Linked DNA regions of Homo sapiens. The protein of the gene in region 1 interacts with the protein of each later gene in a biochemical or structural test. Each region holds a gene or a part of one and is shown in the gene's direction. Other genes may lie near its edges.

Region 1 (5,506 bases):
TTATATGCTCAGTCTTTCTTATACTTTTGCATGCTCAGTCTTTCTCTCTCTCTCTCTCTCTCTCTGTCACACACACACACACACACACACACACACTTGCATGTGTACACCCAGACACACACAAAATTTTGTTTTAATCATGTGAGGATAAATTATATACATTGTAGCCCTTTACCCCCAGGATATTTCAGTGTGTATGTCAAAGAATATTTTCTTATATAACCATAGTGTAGTCATCAATTTCATAATTTTTCATTAACAGTGCTTTAATCTGTCATCTATATGTTGACTGAATGTCATTTCTTTATAACATTTTTCCCTTCCAAAACAGGTTCCAGTCTAGGGTCAGGTTTTGTGTTTAGTAGTCAAGTTTCTTTAGCTTAAACTGGGATATTTCCATAATCTTTCTTTTTCTTTTATAACATTGATATTTTTTTAAAATACAGTTCCCTTCTGCTTCCCCCGCTGCTTTTACCTTTAACAGAACATTGCTCATTGTGTATTTTTCAGATGTTTCCTTGTGATTAGATTGAGGTTGCGCATTCTTGGTGGGATTACTTGCATAGGTGGTGGTGTGTTCTCAATATGTCACATATGCAGGCACACAATGTCCTTTTGTTTCTCACTAGTAATGTTAATTTTGCTTACCTGGTACATTATTTAAATTCTCCTTTGTCATTAATAAGTAATCTATGGGGAGACGATTTAAGAACATACAAACAGCCTGTTTTACATCAACATTTTCCCCTAGATTTAGCATCCATTGATTATTTTTGCCTGATTTAATCTTTATCATTATGGTTACAACGTGATGATTTTTCCAACTCCAGCACTCCCTTTACATTTACCAGGTAGCCTTCAGCATTCTAATCTAAGCAAGATCTTGGCTTACTGCAACCTTGACCTCCTGGTCTCAAGCACCCCTCCCACCTTAGCCTCCTAAGTAGCACACACCACCAAAACTGGCTAATTATTTTATGTTTTGTAGAGATGGGATCTCACTTTGTTGCCTAGGCTGGACTCAAACATCTGGGCTCAAGCAGTCCTCCTCTTGCCTTGGCCTCCCAACATCCTGTGATTACAGATATGAGCCACCATGCCCGACCCCCTACCCCCATTTATTTATTTGTTTGTTTGTTTGTTTGTTTGTTTTTTGAGATGGAATCTTGCTCTGTCGCCCAAACTGGAGTGCGGTGGCACACTCTCGGCTCATTGCAACCTCCACCTCCCAGGTTCAAGCGATTCTCTAGCCTCAGCTTCCCAAGTAGCTGGGACTACAGGCGTGCACCATCACACCCAGCTAATTTTTGTATTTTTAGTAGAGATGGGGTTTCAGCATGTTGACCAGTGTGGTCTTGAACTCCTGACCTCAAGTGATCCACCCACCTCGGTCTCCCAAAATGTTGGGATTACGTGCGTGAGCCACCACGCTCAGCCTCTACACCCATTTATTGTATTTGTATGGTAACAAATCATTGGTATTGTGTCTGTTATAAATCATACTAATAATAGTATGAAGTTTTTTCTACTAGTTTATAATTTATTACTGTACTTAATTATTTTGGTGCTTAAATTGTACCAGATTTGGCCAGTTGAGTATCCCCTACATCTGGCTCTTACGCGGGACAAAGTGTTTAACATAATTTCTGAGTGTGTTTTCTGTTCATTTAGAAGCAGTATTTTTATACTTTCTTATACTTCATTTTGATGAATGAAAAGGGCAAAGCATTAAACAAAATAATCCTGGTAGATCAATGAACTTTGTTTAAATAATTAATAGCACAAAGCAATCAAAGCATGTAGATATAGGTTCTCTCAGAGTAGTCCATTTTTAGGTCCATAGGATGAGGTCATTATTTTTATGTTCTTTGTGTCTCCCAGCTTCATTGCTCCAACCTCCTGGCTCTTAAAGGGCCAATTGATGTATGACATCATCCCCTCAAAATGGGCTGGAGACAGCAAAACAAAGTAATATTCTGTTCCTTCCCTTGGGAAGACTAAGTGTGCCTATGTGGTGTGCACATCTCATGAGGATGACTCTAGTGGCCATATAGAGTTCTATCTATAGAGTTAGAAGAATAACTCTAATCATCTTCATGAATTTTTTATAAGAATGATCTCAATAGAACTTGTCTTCATTAGGTTAGAAAAGGCAATAAATATTCTAAAAACTCATAATGACCTATTTACTTTTATAATTGAGAGGTTATATTTTATTCTATTCATACAACTCTTGTTTTTCTGATTCTTTTTTAAGGCATATTCCCTATATTCTTTTCTTCCCATGTTCTAATTGTCCTGTTTTCTTCAAATAGGTAATTTAATTTTATTTAAATAGGATCTCATTTTCTTGAAAATAATTCTGTATTTCTTTCCTAGCGCTACCTTGATGAAGCAGACAGAGATAAGGAGCGTTACATGAAGGAACTGGAACAGTATCAGAAAACAGAGGCCTACAAGGTCTTCAGTAGGAAAACCCAGGACCGTCAGAAAGGCAAATCTCATAGGCAAGGTATCAAAACCAGAACCAAATGTATTTGTAGTTTGTTGTGGGTGATGGAGTGTCATAAAGCCAACTGTTAAGAGTGGTAACTATAAAAGATGTGTTTCTGTTTTTTCTCCACTATCCAGTATTCACTTACAAGCATTATCTTGAAATTTTATTAAAATCACATTGCTCTCATTTAGAAATTTCAACTGGGTTTCCGTGTCTATTATCAATGATTTTGACTTGTCCTCCGAGACCCCTGTTAGTTGCCTGCCCTTCTTTTCCTGATTCCCAGTTTAGGCATTTCTCTGCCTGTAAGCAAGCCTATCTACAAAATTATATCAGTAACTTCCCTTTAACACTTCTAAGCCTTTCATGTGTCATTTTTGAAGCACCATCCACAACTAGCCTATTTTTCCTTAGCCATTGCATCTTCTCTATACTTGGGCATCTAGCCTGCTAAAATTATAGATGTTGTATAAGTAGTCTTTGGTTTGTGTCTTCTGTCCACTCTTCCACCCTTTTCTCCCTAAAGTTAAGAACTGTGTCTGCTGTTTCTCTTATGCCTAATTATGAATTCTGTAGGCATGGGGTTCCCTTACTTTTGTTGGCTGACCGATTAATAAAGCCTTAAGGAAAAATATCATATGTTATGAGAATCTACATATACAAGCAGGTTTTATAGTTTGGCAGAGTCGTATACTTGGGTTTTGTTATTGCTTTCTTTTTAAATGTAATGTTCTCTTATTCTTTTATATTTTTAGATGCAGCCCGGCAGGCCACTCATGATCATGAGGTAATTAGCCATCTGTCTACATATCATATATATGTATTTATAATAATGTTGCTTTTTGAAATGCTATTGGATTTTTTTTTTTTTAATGAATGGCAAAGTATTTCCTATCTCGTAATTCAGATTAAATGAGATACTTTAGCTTGGGGGTTCTTAGCATATGGCAGACACTTACGTTGTGTGTCTGTCATTGAACTACAGCCCCTAACCTCAATCCTTTCCTGTGATCTGAGAATTTTATTGGCTTTAAATGCCAAAGATGGCTGGAATTTGGAATGAAGTATAGAAATGAGGGCTAGCTGAAAGCTATAACATGACCATAGTTTATCATCACCAAATACTTAAATCTGACTCTCAGAAAAGTTGTTATTTAAAGAATCCAGCATTTGCTTAAAGCGAACTGTTCAACTACAATGTCGATAGAGCACAAGCGACAGTATCTCAGGTTTGTTTTTTGTTTTGTTTTGTTTTTTGTTTTTTTGAGATAGAGTCTCACTCTGTCGCCCAGGCTGGAGTGCAGTGGCACAATCTCAGCCCACTGCAACCTCCGCCTCCCGGGTTCAAGCAATTCTCCTGCCTCAGCCTCCCGAGTAGCTGGGACTACAGGCTCGTGCCATCATACCCGGCTAATTTTCTGTATTTTTAGTAGAGACAGGGTTTCATCATATGAGCCAGGATGGTCTCGATCTCCTGACCTCATGATCCACCCGCCTTGGCCTCCCAAAATGCTGGGATTACAGGCGTGAGCCACCACGCCCGGCCCAGTATCTCAGTTCTCACACCTCCTTTCCTATTCCCTCACTTCACTAGCACATGTTTGTGTACTGGCTTCTTTCCTCCCACTTGGTTCAGCCCCATTGTTAGGATTTAGGCCTGTGTTTCTGTGTGTGTATGGGATTTAGGTGTGTGTGTTGTTTCAAATTCTGTTTTCTCCTTCAAACTTTTCTTGTTTCCTCTAACTTCCTTTAACCCTCATGGCTCTCTATACTTGTGTTATGTGCTTAGCTGATCTGACCTAGGGGTTTTGAGGTAATTCAAGGGCTCACACTCTTTGGTTGTAATGTCTTTGTGGACATACACAGTCTAGTTTCCATCTTTATATCCAACCCCATACCACCTATCATGATACCTTTGCCTTGAGAAGGTATTCCACAAATGATTATTTTATGGAATCTATTCAAAGTTGACCTGAAATAACTGAGAATTTGAACAAAAAGAATTTTCTGATGTACTCTTTTACATGTGTTTGGTTTTTTACTAAATCAAGGAAATGTTGGTTACCTTAAAACATAGAGAAAAGATTCAGATTCACAGGTCAAATAGACGTTATTACCATCTATGAATTATAAAGTGAGAAGCATAGTAAATATTTACATTTTATTCTTCAGATAAATCCTATATAAATGTAATTATATATGACATTCTATGCTCTAATTAGGATGAAATGTTATGTTGTTTTGCTGGAGAAACTTTGTATGTATTCTTTGTATTTTAAATCATAATAATATTGTAAACTTTTCATATTAGCAGACATTTGTATAATTACTTCTCTCTTTCTTTGCCTGTGTGCCCAGCTATCAATATCATGAAATTCCTGTGCTTCTTTTTTTCTCTATTTTATAGCTTCTCTATCCTTAACAGTTACCAAAGAGAATTTGGACAGTAACCTGAAACATTAGATCTCACATTTTCTAGTCAGTCATCTGAATAGGTGTCAGTCATCTGACTCATTTCATCACTATGAATTTTGCTGGCCAAACTATATGTAGCATTTTTGTCTTCAGTAAACTTGATAGTTGCAGTCAGAAAAGATGTAGATTTAGTCTGTATCATAGAACCTGCTGCTGATTATTTGAGAAGTGAAGGTGTTTATTCAGATACATTAGTGTGATATGAATTTCTGTAATTTCTGTGATTTGCAAAAAGAAGTGAGTCTCTGTATTTCCCTGTTACAGGATTAGACACATGTTAAACCAAACAAAAAAAAGGAGTGAGTAGATGGAGAGCCAGCAGTTGTTTCTTAAAAGGTTATACAGTAGGTTCTGTAAATCCATGTGTTGGTATGGCCACAGCAGGATAAAGCTCCTTTAGTAAGCGTGTTGACCCAATTAATGTCCCTTACTTCATCCATTTTTATTTTTCACTGAATAATATGTTTCCTAAATTAGATAATTTTAGAACAATTGCAGTATAAAAGAACTGATTTGAAAGTTTTAAAACTGTTT
Region 2 (4,539 bases), on another chromosome or scaffold:
TTCGGACCCGAGGTCCCTGTACCTACTTTTCCCATCTGACAGTCAGGTTTTACCTTCCAGGTGACAAGGTCAGTCGATCACCAAGAGCTTCCTCATTTCCTGATCCTGGGATAGGTAGTTGGGATACAGGAAGTAGATACAAGTAGAACACAAAAGATGACCCTTTGACTGGAGAAGTTTATGATCTAGTTAATAAAGCAAGACCAGGCCAGGTGCGGTGGCTCACGCCTGTAATCCCAGCACTTTGGGAGGCTGAGGCGGGTGGATCACAAGGTCAGGAGTTCAAGACCAGCAGGCTGGCCAACATAGTGAAACCTCATCTCTACTAAAAATACAAAAAATTAGCCAGGTGTGGTGGCAGGCGCCTGTAGTCCCAGCTACTTGGGGAGAATGAGGCAGGAGAATCACTTGAACCTGGGAGGCAGAGATTGCAGTGAGCCGAGATCACACCACTGCACTCCGTCCTGGGCAACAAGAGTGAAACTCCATCTCCAAAAAAAAAAAAAAAAAAGACCAAAAATGCAAAATAAATAGATCAAATGAAGTGGCAGAAAAAGCTAATCATAAAACTTTCAGCATATAAGTATAATAAGGGTTTCTGAAAAGGAAGAGATTGTTGTGGACTAGAATAGCCAAATGGTTTTGTGGCTTCATGGAAGAATAAAACCAAGAAGGGAAGGTGTCAGCAAAGGACAGTAGTGCCTTCCTAGTTTCATTATATATCGAACCTGCTTAACACATGACATCTGGGAAGAGCTGCAGGGAATGATTTTCACGTATGATGATCTCATCTAATCCTTAACACTGTGAGACAGATTCGAATATCCCCATTTTACCCATGAGGAAATAGGCTCAGAGAGATGTTGTTCATGTAGCTGTTAAACGGCAGAGATTTAGGCCAGACGTGGTGGCTCACACCTGTAATCCCAGCACTTTGGAAGGCCGAGGCGGGCGGATCACTTGAGGCCAGGAATTCGAGAGCAGCCTGGCCAACATGGTGAAACCCTGTCTCTACTAAAAATACAAAAATAAGCCAGGTGTGGTGGTGCATGCCTGTAATCGCAGCTACTCGGGAGGCTGAAGCAGGAGAATCCCTTGAACTCAGGAGGCAGAGGTTGCAGTGAGCCAAGATCACGCAACTGCACTCCAGCCTGGGCAACAAAGAGAGACTCTGTCTCAAAAAAAAAAAAAAAAAAAAAAAAAAAGGCAGAGAACTGGGTCTTTCTGACTCCAAACTTCGTGCTCTTAATCTTCATCCTTCTATGTTATACTGAACAGAAAACAAAATTTTCTTTGGACATTTGAGGGTGAGCTGTTCTTTCTGTTGTGCATTAATGTGTTAGTTGCTGGATTCCTCCTAAACATCAGCTCCTCAAGGCAGAGATTTTAGTCTGTTTTGTTCATGTTGTGTTCCAGTGCCTGGTGCTTAGTAGGAGGTCAATAAATGAACAAATCAAAGGAAATAAATGGGGTGATGAGATAGAGAGTACCTTATCGGGGAGAGAAATGCAATGGCTGGTCACCCCAAGGAGGTGAAGGTAGGGAGAGCAGGAAGCATGAGGAGGAGCCAGCAGCAGCCCTCCCAGGGAGGAATTCTGAACAAGGCTCGGGGGAGTGAAAGAACCTGCCAGCTGATAAATGGCACAGCCTGAGTTCAACTCCAATGCCCATGGTTTAGTCTGAGCTGAACTGGTAGACTAAGGGAAGTGGAGTGGTCTTACTTAAGGAAGGGTAGAAGCCAAGTGGGAGATACAGGTAAGGAAGCTGTGACAAGAAAGGGAAACCTACAGGACAGTGGGTCTGGAGCATTCTTGGCCCATAGGGGCTGGAGTGGCTAAGACAGGGTCGTCTTTGGAGTCTCACGGGGCAAGGAATTTGTCAGCAAGGACCCTGAAATTGCTGAGGAAGAAACTGGGAGAAGAGGAAGAAGATTCTGCAGATTCTGAAATCGTCTAGTGAGTCTGAGCTAGGCCTGGGAGGAAGTGGACAGCAGCGCCAACGAGTTGATGAGAATGACATATGTGGCACGGACACCAAAAGGTCAGACTAGGCTGGGCATGGTGGCTTACACCTGTAATCCCAGCACTTTAGGAGGCTGAGGCAGGGGGATCACTTGATGCCAGGAGTTTGAGACCAGCATAGGCAACATAGCAAGACCCCATCTCTACAAAAAATAAATTAGCCGGATGTGGTAGTGCACACCTGTAGTCCCAGCTGCTTTGGAGGCAGAGGCAGGAGGACTGCTTGAGCCCAGGAGTTTAAGGCTGCAGTGAGCTATAGTCACGCCACTGCATTCCAGCCTGGATAACAGAGCAAAGCCCTATCTAAAAAATAAAAATAAAAGGTCACATTAGAGAGCAGTAGTGTTTCAGACATCCAGGAATGCTTCATAGAAATGTAGAAACAATTGACTTACCCACACAGACAAGAAAGAAGGCAGGAGGGCAAAAGGTGAAGAGATACACAGATAAATTTACACTGGTGTAAACACATGCTGCAAACACGCGCACACACACGCACACGCACATGCACATGCACATGCCAACCAAATCCTAGCATTCATGTGGAATGTTCCTGGCTGAAGACATAACAGCTGCATCTCTGGCCTCCCTTCACCTGCCCCTCCCTTCCCCAGTAGCTTTTTCCCATGGCCTCTCCTCAGTCCTTTTCACTCCACCAAAGCAAACCTAGGACTGCCCCAGCCACTGAGGCCTTGCCCTGGCCACGAACTCTAGCCCTTATCCTGGTTCGAGTCTGAGTGTGGGCCATGCCTCACATGGGAATCAGACTGGGTTTCCCTTGCCCAGCCCTCCAGGCCCCAGGGTGCTGTCTCTGCACCTGCACTCCCCTGTCCACATCAAACTGGGTTTCCCTTGCCCGGGCCTCCAGGTCCCAAGGTGCTGTCTTTGCACCTGCACTCCACTGTCCACATCAGACTGGGTTTCCCTCGCCCGGGCCTCCAGGCCCCAGGGCACTGTCTCTGCACGTGCACTGCCCTGTTCGCATCAGACTGGGTTTCCCTTTCCCGGCACTCCAGGCCCCAGGGCACTGTCTTTACACCTGCACTGCCCTGTCTGCATCTCTTCTGTCTTTCTGTGCCTCTTGCCCTTAGAGCTCCTTGTCTGTCTTTCAGTGCATATACCAGAATGTCTGTATGTCTATGTGAAATCTTTTTGTGGGAATGCCTGAATTTTTACGTATGTGACTTTCTGGTGTCATCCCTAAGGCCAAGAGTGTTAAGAGTTGGGGTGAGAGATGGTAGAGTTTTTTATGTTTGGCTCTCCACATTATATAGGTTCTAGGATATGTCCCTGAAACTACAACGTAGCTCATACATGGGCATTTTTATAAGACTAAGTGTTTTTATGGGTGGACCTCCTGATTCTCTGCCATGAGCTAGGCCTGAGATTTTACAGACCTAGGACTAACTGCAGTCACCTGGACACCAGAGATCTGTAACTGTCAACCGTAAAGAGAGAGAGTATATTTGCTTCTTTGGGGTTGAAACCATACTGACGTAATATAAACAGAATTTGGTCAGCACCATCAGGCAAACATAGTCTGCTCGATAAGGAAACTGTGAGAGTCAAATGGAACTTTTGAAGAATCTAGACCAAGCTGAACTTCCCTGCCATATTCACCCCTGCCTCACGCCTCTCCCTGTTCACCCCTGGCTGGCTGGCTGCATCCTGGGGAATGCTTCTGCTCCATCGGGGTACCCTTCCTCCTCTGCATCTCCTCAAGAGAAGTGTAACCAAGACACATAGAAGAAGCACAGACTAACACACCTTCCCCCATAGTACATCATCTCCACCCTCCACAGCCTCATGTTATGCTCCTGTGTCCTTCACAGTCTCCCCTCCCATACCCTGCCATCCCGGTGTGGGGGCTGTAAATCCAGTTTGCATCCATAAAGAGCCCTGGTGCAAGGCTGGACAGCAATGGCCCTCAGAGAACAGAACAGGCTCAGGAGGGGCCAGGCAGTGCTCGAGCCTCGGGTGAGCAAGCGCAGGGCTTTTCAAAGCAGACCATCTGCAGGAGGGGGACCGCCCTCACTCAAGGCGCAGTCATGTTCCCTTGGGGAACTTTCAGAGCTGAGTGGGCTTTGCCCCCCTCATGTAACTGCTCCCTGGATTTAAGGAGTTTTGATTCCATTTTTTAATGACTTTCCTTCTCCTGAGAAGCATCTGTCTCCATGGCTGCCTCGGGTTGGCTACAGTAGTAGAAAGTATGACTCTACCCTGCTGTCATACCTGGGTGGGAAAAGTCAACAAACGAGTAACGGGAGAAGCAAGGAAGCCCCTGGGGTGGGTTGGTCAGGGAAGCCCCTTTGAGATAGTCTGGGGCATGAGAAGACCTGGCCGTGACCTCAGTGTGTTGTTTCTGCCCATGCTGCCACAGGTTAGCAGAGGAGCCGGACACAGAGGAAGCTCAGGTGAGTACAAAGAGTCCTCTGCCTCCCCACGGCCCCTCCCTCCTTCCTCAGCATCTTCCCTTCCCCTCCCTTCCTGCAGTCACAGGTCCCTAGCCAGGGCAGTC

What was found. The genes of interacting proteins can lie anywhere in the genome.
Region 2: the proteins of HMG20A (region 1) and DTNB form a complex in vitro, tested with the Homo sapiens proteins (one study listed by BioGRID).

What each region holds. Positions count from the first base shown.
Region 1 is NC_000015.10:77,468,531-77,474,036, forward strand, and holds part of HMG20A (high mobility group protein 20A), read left to right. Parts: intron 1-2,379; coding exon 2,380-2,512; intron 2,513-3,252; coding exon 3,253-3,284; intron 3,285-5,506. UniProt on the Homo sapiens protein: Plays a role in neuronal differentiation as chromatin-associated protein. Acts as inhibitor of HMG20B. Overcomes the repressive effects of the neuronal silencer REST and induces the activation of neuronal-specific genes.
Region 2 is NC_000002.12:25,379,186-25,383,724, reverse strand, and holds part of DTNB (dystrobrevin beta), read left to right. Parts: intron 1-4,401; coding exon 4,402-4,406; coding exon of another isoform or gene 4,407-4,435; intron 4,436-4,539.